3 linked regions of the Homo sapiens genome follow. The protein of the gene in region 2 interacts with the protein of the main gene of each other region in a biochemical or structural test. Each region holds a gene or a part of one and is shown on either strand. Other genes may lie near its edges.

Region 1 (3,750 bases), on a different chromosome or scaffold from region 2:
GGCTTTCACAAATACCCCCATACACCCCCCATCCCACCCCACCGGCGCCAAAATCCGGTGAACTTTCTCACAGGCTAAGCCGTCTCTATTTGCATAACCATCTCCAAACTGAGATTCAGGTTTCCTGTAATCAGTCCTTTCAAAGGTCTGTAATTGAAAGTGCAATTAACCCTTAAAATGAGGTAAGAAAAAAGAAAGAGGGGAAAAATACTCCTCTGGTCTGATACCTTCCGGAAAGTAGGAGAGTTCCCAAAAGTCAGGGTTTGGAGGGGTGGAGAGTGGGGGTAGTCGTTTGCTTTTTAAAGGCGACTTCTGAAGCGGTTGCGGCTACTAAAACTCCTAATCCTTGTCAGCGGTGCAAGAGAGGCGGGGAGAGAGTTTTAAAAGAACATCAATGAAACATCAATTCAAGTTCCACGTTTTGCGACCCCCAGAATCTAGCAAGCTCCGGGACGTTTCCCTCCACCACACCCCACTGGCGACCCCCACCCCCACCCGGCCTCTCCTCACCCATACAACAAAGCGGGGCGTCCTATAAGGAGTTCAACCCGGAAAAGGAGAAGTAGCCGGTGACACGCACTTTGAGGGCCACAGTCCTCAGGGGCTTCCCGGGACGGCGAATAATGCAGGGGGGAGAGGAGGAGCGGAGGCGGGGAGCGGAGCGCGACAGTCGCACTGGGCAACCCGGCGGCGCCCCTCCGCTCGCAGTGCTGGGAAGGGGGGAGCGCTGCGCCCGCGGGGAACGTCCTGCGCCCGGGCTGCCTGGCTCTCTCGCTCGCTCGCTCCTGCCCTCTCGACTGCCCATTTCTCCCTCTAGTGTACCTGCGTCCGGCGCAGGGGGCGGCGGGGCGGGGGAAGGGAGTTGCAGCCTCCCTTCCCGAAGTGTCGGTCTCTGCGCCCACCTCCCGGGTGTGCCCACCTACCGTTGATCTCGTGGAGGGGGGCATCGTTCTTGTTGAAGCCTTTGGACACGTAAAGACGTCGCACTTCCGAGCAACTTTTCGACTTGAGCTCGGCAGCCAGCAGCGCGGCGCTGAGCACTGCCAGGGTGCAGAGAAGCGCGGGCAAGCCGAACCGTGCCATGGTGCGGGCCGGGGCGGACGCGTTCCCACCTTTGGGACCGGACGGGAAGCGGCGCTACGGCAGCGGGCCGAGGGCTGGCGGAGTCGGGGACTAGCGAGTGGAGCTGGAGGGAGAAGGAGTTGGAGTTGGTGGAAGAGGCGAGCAGGCGGAGGAGACGCGGGGCGAAAAGTAGAGCTGGGCCTCGCGTCAGGCAACGGTCCCCGGTGCCAGGCGCCGGGCCAGGGGAGAAGGAGGGCGTGGAGGCGGCGCGCGGCCCAGGGAAGCAGAGGCGCGGGCTGGTGACCTCGGGGTTTCGCGGGGCAGCGAACCCGGCAAGCTGACTGGCCGGCGAGGCGGGGACGCGGGGAAGGAGGGAAGGGTGGCAGGCGCCGCGGGGACCGCAGAGGGTGTGGGCGGCGGCGGGCGTTCGCTGCGCGCTGCTTGGGCTGCCCTGCGCTGGTCCGCTCGTCCGGCTGGACTCGGCTCGGCTGACTCTGCCCTCCGCCGCGCGGCTGTGCCCTTCTCAGCTCTGCCGCTGATTGACTGGCCGGCGTGCGCGGCGACGCTCCGCAAACTTGGCCAAGCGGGCGGCACTCGGGGGGAGGGGGCGGGCGTCGTGGGGGGGCCGGAGACAGGCGGGAGCACGCTGGGCCGGGCCGGGAGAAAACCTGGAAGCCGGGTTGGATCCGGAGCGGCCAAATCCACTTCCTAGGGGGCCGCACCGGGCGCCCGGCGCTCCTTCGCGTGACACGCCCCACCCGGCTCCTCCTTCCTCCCCTCCTCCTCGGAGGCGGGGAGCCAGCCCACCGCCCCCCAACCACAAAGGGAAGGCCAACTACTCCGGGCTGAAGGGCCCAGGTTCTGGGGAACGGGACGGCCTGGGACTTGTCCCGAAGCCCATGTCTGAGCCCCAGGCCTTCTTGCGCGCGGCCACCTGACCCGCCGCCTATGGGCAAAAGCCGCGCGGAGCCCTCCCGCCGCGATATCCGCCTCCCCGCTGCCATCCCGCACCCGCGGACGCTCCTATCCGCGCAGCTCCCGGGCTGGGCGGGGAAGGCACATTACTCGCATTGTTTCGCTGCAGGCAGCAGGGGGATTTGGGGCTCCGAGCTCGTCCTAGAGCCTCACCTGGTCTCCCCAGACCTGCTTCCCATAGGACGGTACTCGTGAAACACCAGTTTGTCCAGGACCCCATCAGGCATCCTCCTTCCCGCATCCGCAACACTCCAACCCCTCGACGCCACTCCCACCCCCGACCCGGTTCTACTACAAGTCTAACCGAACTCTGAAGCGGGAGAAACCCCCAACCGCGAGGTGAGGGGGCAAAGACAGGGTTGACCGCAGAGATCTTGGAGACCATTTGGCCCAACCCTTCCTTCTATTAAGGGAACTGGGGCCCAGAAATGGGAAGCGACTTGGTAAATAGCACGCCGGGGAAGGGGGCGTCCAGAACCCGGGACTCTTGACTCTCGAATTTCATGGAATAATGGTAGCCCAGGACTCCCAAACCCCCTACCCCCTCAAGCCCCTTGAGAGAGACTGACACCCCTCTGGGACTCAGTCCCCACTTTTCCACCAGAAAACTGGAAATGGGAGAGACTTCCCATCTTGCAAGCTTTGTCAGATTCCATTAATGAGTGTTTTTTTGAAGCTCCCAGCGCTCCTTAAATGAAGGGAACTGTGCAGCTCGGGAACTTGTCATTACCGTTGTTATTGTTACAATCTGCTTTAAGAGGTTGGGTTGAGAAGTGCCTCAGACACCTCGGGAGTGTGCTGGGAACTGGGCAGATAAAAAGGGCTGGAACTTATTATTTGGCTAGACTCTCAATTCCCATAAAATTACATAGGGCAAAGATACGAACCATCATTACAGTTATCACCCTCAGAGGGTTTGTTGAGACTTTCTCCACTGTTGTTTGTAAACCACGTTGACATGGCTGGCTATGAGGAGCTGTTATTTTGAATACCTGCTTGCAGACTCTTCTACATTTTGTTAACAGACTATCAACATGAACAGACTGTGACCCGTCTATAACTGTGACTTCCAATTTCTGTGGGCTGGCTGAATATTTAACTCTGAAACTAGGAGAGCAATTTTTTTAATGTGCAAACTCAACTACAATTGAATTTCCTGCCATTTTCAAGACTTTCCTTAAACTGGTAACCATCAAGTCCTGAAGGCATTGCTAGGGCTTAGCTGAGCACTTTTAATTTTCATTGATTGATACATTTACTTAAAGATGTTCTTCACCAAGGAGAATATGCTCTGAGATGCAACGAGCATTATTATAAAATGGAAGCCAGTGACCGTAAGAGAGAAAATGATACTCCTGAACCATGAAGGCCAAATCAGAAAGCTACTTCTCACACCAAGGCTGGGAGGAACTCATTCGTTGCCGCCGCTCCCCCCCGCCGCCCCCGCCCTCCCCAGGTTTACTCCTGCTCTTCCTCATAATGTATTATTAACCCAAACTTGAGCCTTTTCCACCAGAAACAGTAACCTCTGGCTACAAACAGATCTGGACAAGTCTGAACTTTACCAAGGGAGGCAGGAACCCCAAGCCGTGCTCAGAGGCGGCTCCCACTTCAAAGCCTCCTTTCATTTAAATACAAACAGGGTGAACAACTGGCAATCTACGAAACAAATACCATCCAGAAGGGAAGCTTTCTTTTCAGATGGGCCAGAAC
Region 2 (3,750 bases):
AAAAACAGTGTATTTAAACTATTCTTAAAACAGATGACCTGTCCTTTCCACCATGGACCATAGGGGCTTATGCTAGATGCTGTCTACTTTGATCAGAGAGAGAAGTATGATTTTCCTACCTGTTTAGAGCATTCATTTTAATACCCCATTCTCACAGAGATCTTTCCTTTCTCTCCAATTCAGCCAACTCTATTGTGTTTTCCTTACCTGAGGACATTGGGGTGCTGTCAGCCAGACTTGCTTGACATTCTATAACTGAAATCTAAGGCATCCAAGACGTAGTAAGTTTTACATACTTTACCTTTTTGTTTTTGCTGAACCTATTAATATGAATGGGCTGATCAGTTATTATAGCTTCAAAATACTGATTTCCAAAGACTGACAATCCTTTAAAGGAGGAAGGCCGTAAGCAGACAAATCCTACCTTGATCCACAGGCAGTGTCCTGAACTGGACACTGGGACTATATGGCCCGGGCCCTTTGCTCGTATGAGCACGTACTTTTACATCGTATGTGGTATCTGGTTTTAAGCCAGTGAGTGTCATAGTGGTGTCAGCTGGAACAATAAGCTGCTCCATCGGGAGAAGGGGGATGTTGATATCCCTATAAAGAAGGGTATACTTGGTGATAATGCCATTTCTCTCTGCCAGGACAGGTGGTTGCCAAGATAACTGGACGGAGGTTGAAGTGGTGCCTTCTGAGTGAAGGTTTTGAGGGAATCCAGTTGGTACTTCTTCTGGAATGGAAATCTCCTTCACCATCTCCTCCCCAAAGCCCACTTTGTTTCTGGCTGAGAGCCTGAAGACGTATGATGCTCCCTTGTGGATGTCTGTAGCTGTAAAGTGATCTTCTTTTTCAGAGAACTCAAGAGTAGTAAGTGGCTCCATATCCTTGCGGCCAAATTTTAGACGGTAGCCCTGAAGAGGTCCAAATGTGTCCACCGGAGGGTGCCACTGAATAAGAGCAGTATTCATCTGAGTGTGGTTAATCACAAGCCGAGGTTTCCCTGGAACTGGAGCACATGGGATGGAGTGGTAAGACCAACCAATCTGAACGTTCACATTTCAGTCATTGCCAAATGAGGGAGTTCCACTCTACTGGTATTCCCATTTTCTTACTTACCAAAACAAAACAAAACAGGCAATGTTTGACCTACATACCTTTGTGGAAATATGCTCCTTGTCTTACTTTATTAAAGTAGGCTGAGATACTAGAATTTGATAATGGACACAAAACAGAAATTATCATTGAAACAACAGCTTAAGGGGATTTTTTTGACACCTGCACGTTTTAAACCTTCACACATAAAGGTTCATATCAAAGATAAATTAATTTGAGCAAAGATCAGCCAATTAGATATGGCTAATAAGAATAACTATAATGATTATTTATTCGTTGAATATGTGCAATGTACCGGCGTCACGCTAAGTGCATTGCATATAGTATTCACAATTGGTTTACATTCCTGACTCCTCACTACATTCTCGGATTAGTTATTATTATCTCTATCTTCTATAATGAGAAAATGAGGCCCAGAGAGGTAGAAAACTTTCCAAGGCTAGCATGTAACAAGTGAGAAATCTATAAGGCAAACCCACCTCTGTCTGGAGTCGACTGCTTAAATGCTTAATTGTGCTGCTATGTTGCTTAAAAGTTTAAAAAAAAACCAAACTACAAAATAATATCGTATTGACTTACTATGAATTTAATTTGCACTTTCTAACTTTACTATCCACATCATTCATCAAGTTCTTCATCTGTAAAATGGGAATTATATTAAGAGCTATTTTATATTGTTCTTATGAATAATAAATGAGGAAATTCATGTAAAAGTCTTAGCATGAGGTTCTGCATTCTATCAATATTAACCATAATTATTAATAATCTGAATATTAAACTTCTTATGGTGAAAGGCTAGCTTCCAATGAATACATAATTTATTTACCTTTAAGTTAGATATGTGAAAAGGTCTAATCTACTCATTCAATGTATTATTATGTCTGTATTTATTTTTAATGGAGAGCAATTATTATTGGAATCCACAGTGAAAGACATTGAGGGATGATCATCAGAATAAAAACTAAACCAAGTTAACAGAAAGAAGAAGAAAGGCCAAGTATGGTGGCTCATGTCTATAATCCCAGCACTTTGGGAGCTGAGGTGGGAGGACTGCTTGAGCCCAAGAGTTCAAAACCAGCGGCTGGGTGTGGTGGCTCACACCAGTAATCCCAGCACTTTGGGAAGCAGTGGATCACCTGAGGTTGGGAGTTTGAGACCAGCCTGACCAACATGGAGAAACCCTGTCTCTACAAAAAACACAAAAATAGCCAGGTGTGGTGGTGCATGCCTGTAATCCCAGCTACTCGGGAGGCTGAGGCAGGAGCATCACTTGAACCCGGGAGGCAGAGGTTGCAGTGAGCCGAGATCATGCCACTGCACTCCAGCCTGGGCAACAAGAGCAAATTCCGTCTCAAAAACAAACAAACAAACAAACAAACAAACAGCTTGGCAACATAGCAAGACCTTATCTCTACGGGGGGAGGGGGGAAGGCATGGTGTCACATGTCTGTAGTCTTAGCCACTCAGGGGGCTGAGGTGGGAGAATTGCTTGAGCCAAAGAGTTTGAGGCTGCAGTGAGCTATGATCACACCATTGCTGTCCAGCCTGAGTGACAGTGAAACTGTGCCTCAAAATTATGAATGTGAAGAAAAAGAAAGATGGTAGGAAAGGAGGAAAGCTTACAGTAATGGGAAACAGGTGATAAAAAATCATACCATGGGGATATAGATGAAGGTAAAAAAATCACTAAAAAGATTATGAGACAATACATAGAATATTAACCTCAGAGATGGACTGATTAGCCTCTTCATTTTGTATTTCAGAAAGTGAAACCCAAGTGGAGATGTGCTCTGCTCTAAGAAATATCATTAAGATATTTATTTCCTTAACCAATGGAGCAACAGTTTTGTTTCACATGCTGGGAAGATTCATCACATGCTGATATAACTCAGCTAATCTACAATGTATGAAAACAATAGTTTCTAAAGTTTTTAGATAAATAATTATTCAACAACATGTGTGCTGTGTTATACATATAAAACATGTGTGTTGTGTTGTATATATAAAACATGTGTGTTGTGTTGTATATATAAAACATGTGTGTTGAAGGTAGGCCCAGGAACCACATCATTGTGTACTCATTGTGTTCCTCAGGAAAAATGCATCCAGAGATCTTAACGACCAACACACACTCTCAGAACACCACCCATCCATAAGTTGGAAACTGTGTGAACTATTCCACTTGCTTTTAATATATTTACAATTATCTTAATTTTAAAATAGTACTTTAATGTAGGGACATTGGCAGACATCTTTAATTCCCCTTTATGTGTATAGAGCATTTACATGATTTGTCCAAATGTCAGTGATGGTGTCAAGGATTAAACACCTGAGTCTCTGCTGAGAAAAATCCATGGTGAAATAGAGCTTTCAACAGAGAATACAGCCTTCAATATATGAAACTCCGTTGAAACGAGTGGGTGGAAACACAACTATTAATTCTCAATATTCTCCAGAGGCAACAGATTAAACATATTTATTAAAATTTTTTGAAATTCTAGTTCCAACGAACTGCATAATAATATATACACCGTGTATCCTGTTTCCGTGAGATGCACGTAAAGCTAGGATAAATAAAAATAATTTTTTGATCTAAACCACAAATAGAGACTGCATTCTAATATTTGTCAT
Region 3 (3,750 bases), on a different chromosome or scaffold from region 2:
GGTACGGAGAGCTTGTGTCTATATATATTTTAAATTCCCCAAAAACTGCACTGGCTTTCATGGTCCACACCCCTAGTCTGGCACTGCAGCTCCGATGACTCCTGCTGTGCCTCTGAGCCATCTCTAGGGGTTGTGGTGCTCTCTACTCACCAACAGGAGACTTTAGCAGGAGTAAGTCCTGACTGTAGCAGAATCCAACCTCTGTGTTCCTGATACATTGCCTGTTTCAACAGCCACGAGAGGAAGCGTGCAAACACAGCGTGCAGTTAGTCTTAGAACATCACATGAGGGCACAAGTAGACACACATCTTCACACCTACAGCAGTGCCTACGGAGGGACCTGAGGGGAGCTGCCTGAGTGGGCGGGATGGAGCCAGAGAGATCCAAGTGTCACCCAGTGGTGGCTCTCCCCAGCTCCCAAAGAGCCCCGGGAGACTCTGGAACACTACTCCGAAATACCAAGCACCAAATGGTACAGTAACAATTTCAAAATGTACATCTGCATAAATGACCCCTACTTAGAGTGATCCCTTTATCTCTTACTAAACTCTGCATTCATAGACCAATGGGGCTTTCTCCCTGCCCTAAGTGCTCCATCTCTAACACTGGTATGAAGGAAACACCAAGCGGCACTGCTGATGCTGCCCAGCCCCACTGAGCGCAGAGGCCAACGACGTCGGGTACAAGACCAGTCTAAGAGGAGGGAGAGAACCTTGCTACCCAGCACTAGCTGGGTGTCTGGGAAGCCGGTGCCCTTTTCTCCTGGGGAGGAGCAGAGCAGGTGCAGAGATCTGGCTGCAGGGGTGGGGCGTTGGCCAGGGAGTGGGGTGAAAGCTGATCTAAAAACTGAAGCCCAGTCTCAGTTCCTACCAGAAATATTAATCATAGAGACCACAGATTTTGGTTCTTGTTCAAGAAACACAGTGTGGCCATAAGTAAGCCCGATTTCCATTAACAACTGGGATTTTAAGTTTTTGCAAATCGGAAGCAGGTACTGGCTGCTCCCGGTTATGTTTTTTGTTTTCCCACAGGTATACCAGGAACACTTAATCAACATCCTGCATGGTTCCAGCAAAGACATTAAGACAGTTGGGACTGTTGGTGAGGACAGATGATCTTCACAAACCCTCTGACTCTTAAGAACCTGGGAGACCTGCTGGAGTTTACCCCACATTCCCTTAATTAAAAAGCCATTAAAATAGTCAACTTTGCTGGGCACGGTGGCTCGCGTCTGTAATTCCAGCAATTTGGGAGGTCAAGGCAGGAGGATTGCTTGAGCCCAAGAGTTAAGACCAGCCTGGGCAACATGGTGAGAGCCCATCTCTACAAAAAATTCAAAAAATTAGCAAGGCATGGGACCACACCTGTGGTCCCAGCTACTTGGGAGGCTGAGGTTGCAGTAAGCCGAGACTGAGCCACTGCACTCCAACCTGGGCAACAGAGTGAGACCCTGTCTCAATAATAATAATAATCCCTTTAGCAGGCTTGTGCCTGAGTTATTTAATGTAAGGGTAAAAAGTCTTCTTTATAATAAATTCCCTATACCTTTTAGGTTTACTTTTTTTTTTTTTTTGAGACAGAGTTTTGCTCTTGTCGCCCAGGCTGGAGTACAGTGGCATGATTTCGGCTCACTGCAACCTCTGCCTCCCAGGTTCAAGCCATTCTCCTGCCTCAGCCTCCTAAGTAGCTGGGATTATTGGCATGTGTCACCATGCCTGGCAAATTTTTTCTTTTGAGACAGTCCTGCTCTGTCGCCCAGGCTGGAGTGCAGTGGTGTGATCTTGGCTCACCACAAGCTCCGCCTCCTGGGTTCATGCCATTCTCCTGCCCCAGCCTCCCGAGTAGCTGGTACTACAGGCGCCTGCCACCGTGCCCAGCTAATTTTTTTTTTTTTTTTGTATTTTTAGTAGAGATGGAGTTTCACCGTGTTAGCCAGGATGGTCTTGATCTCCTGACCTCGTGATCCTCCCGCCTTGGCCTCCCAAAGTGCTGGGATTACAGGCGTGAGCCACCGAGCCCGGCCGATTTTTTTGTATTTTTACTAGAGACAGGGTTTCACCACGTTGGCCAGGCTGGTCTCACCACGTTGGCCAGGCTGGTCTCGAACTCCTGACCTCAGCTGATCCACCCACCTCAGCCTCCCAAAGTGCTGGGATTACAGGCGTGAGCCACCGCGCCCGGCCTAGGTTTACTTTTCATCCATCCAAACTCTCATTCTTAATATTCCTGTTAACATTTAACAAGGGAGATGTGATTTATCAGAAGGAAAACTGAAATTGAAGCCACAAGTAAAACAAGAAAGCACTCGTGGACTCCAGGTGACAGAGCTTGAGCTGAAGGCCAAGTCACAGTTCTGCTTTCTAAGAATTATATGCATGACTCTTGGAAGAAAAATGCTAATTTGTAAAAAGTTCCTAGTTAAAAGATATACTGGGTTTTCCCCCTTGAGTATATTATCAAATTCTGGCAAACAATAAATAAATAATACAGCTTTTTACTAAAAATGCCACAAAGTAAGCTATTCTCACCCAAAGCGTCCAGCTTAACTAAGGTTTTATTTAAATGTACTTTTCTTTTTATTTTTATACAGGTGATAGAGAACAAAATTTATGAACCTACGTACGGGAGGGACTGATGACAAAAAAAATTGGCAAAAACCCCATTCGCACAGTTTTCAATTATTATTTTTTTTTTTTTAGAGATGGGGTCTCACTGTGTTGCCCAGGCTAGTCTCAAACTTCAGCTCAAGTGATTCTCCTGCCTCTCAGCCTATCAAAGTGCTAGGATTACTGGTATAAGCCACCATGCTTGGCCCCTAATTAGCACTTAAAAAAAAATTTTTTTTTTTTTTGAGACAGAGTCTCAGTCTGTCATCAAGGCTAGAGTGCAGCGGCACAATCTCGGCTCACTGCACCCTCTGCCTCCCAGGTCCAAATGATTCTTGTGCCTTAGCCTCCCAAGTAGCTGGGATTACAAGCATGTGCCACCACACCTGGCTAATTTTTGTATTTTTTTTTTGTAGAGACGGGGTTTCGCCATGTTGGTCAGGCTGGTCTCAAACTCCTGGCCTCAAGGATTAGCACAGTTTTTAATGCCACTTCCTTTCCTCCAGTCTGCTCACTGGCCTCAGAAGTGAGCATGAGTGACCTGTGTGTAGCACAGGGGCTGCCAAACAGCCCCGACTGACACGGGCTCAGAACTTCACCAGCTTAATGAATGAGGCATTCAATCATCGCAACTACTCTATGAGGAAGACACTACCATGACGACCATTTTACAGATGGGGAGACCGAGGCCAGGGTAGTTAAATGACTTGTTCAGGGTCATGCACCTCCTAGTGGCAGAGCTGGAGTCAAACCTAGGCAGCCTGGCTCTTCAACCTGTGCACTGCCTTTCATTAGATGAGTACAAGGGCAGAGTTGAGAGACCTGTAAGGAAGCCATGGTCAACTGTTAACCTCAAATCAAAGTGGCCGTCTAAGGGAAAATCCCAAACTGCATGTGAAATCATGGCAGTGATGCTCTCTCTCTGGCTGGTATAGTCAATAGCTGCCTCGCTCCACTGGGGACTTCTTGGAGGTTCACCTTCCTCCCTTCCCTGCCCTCTAATGGGTAGACATGTGACTGCACGGAACAGCAGCAGCAGGGAGGGCAGAAAGCATAGGCAGAGCTCACACAAGCTGGAAACTGTGTGTTCTTAAAAATGTACTCAGTTATTTTCTCTGGTGTGGAGAGCAGTAAATTATGTGGT

The links.
Region 1: the proteins of PTPRD (region 2) and GPC4 form a complex in vitro, tested with the Homo sapiens proteins (one study listed by BioGRID).
Region 3: the proteins of PTPRD (region 2) and PPFIA1 form a complex in vitro, tested with the Homo sapiens proteins (one study listed by BioGRID).

What each region holds. Positions count from the first base shown.
Region 1 is NC_000023.11:133,413,883-133,417,632, forward strand, and holds the start of GPC4 (glypican-4 precursor), read right to left. Parts: upstream 1,608-3,750; 5' UTR 1,084-1,607; coding exon 924-1,083; intron 1-923. UniProt on the Homo sapiens protein: Cell surface proteoglycan that bears heparan sulfate. May be involved in the development of kidney tubules and of the central nervous system.
Region 2 is NC_000009.12:8,485,338-8,489,087, forward strand, and holds part of PTPRD (receptor-type tyrosine-protein phosphatase delta isoform 1 precursor), read right to left. Parts: intron 1,013-3,750; coding exon 425-1,012; intron 1-424.
Region 3 is NC_000011.10:70,378,559-70,382,308, reverse strand, and holds part of PPFIA1 (liprin-alpha-1), read right to left. Parts: intron 222-3,750; coding exon 163-221; 3' UTR 151-162; intron 1-150. UniProt on the Homo sapiens protein: May regulate the disassembly of focal adhesions. May localize receptor-like tyrosine phosphatases type 2A at specific sites on the plasma membrane, possibly regulating their interaction with the extracellular environment and their association with substrates.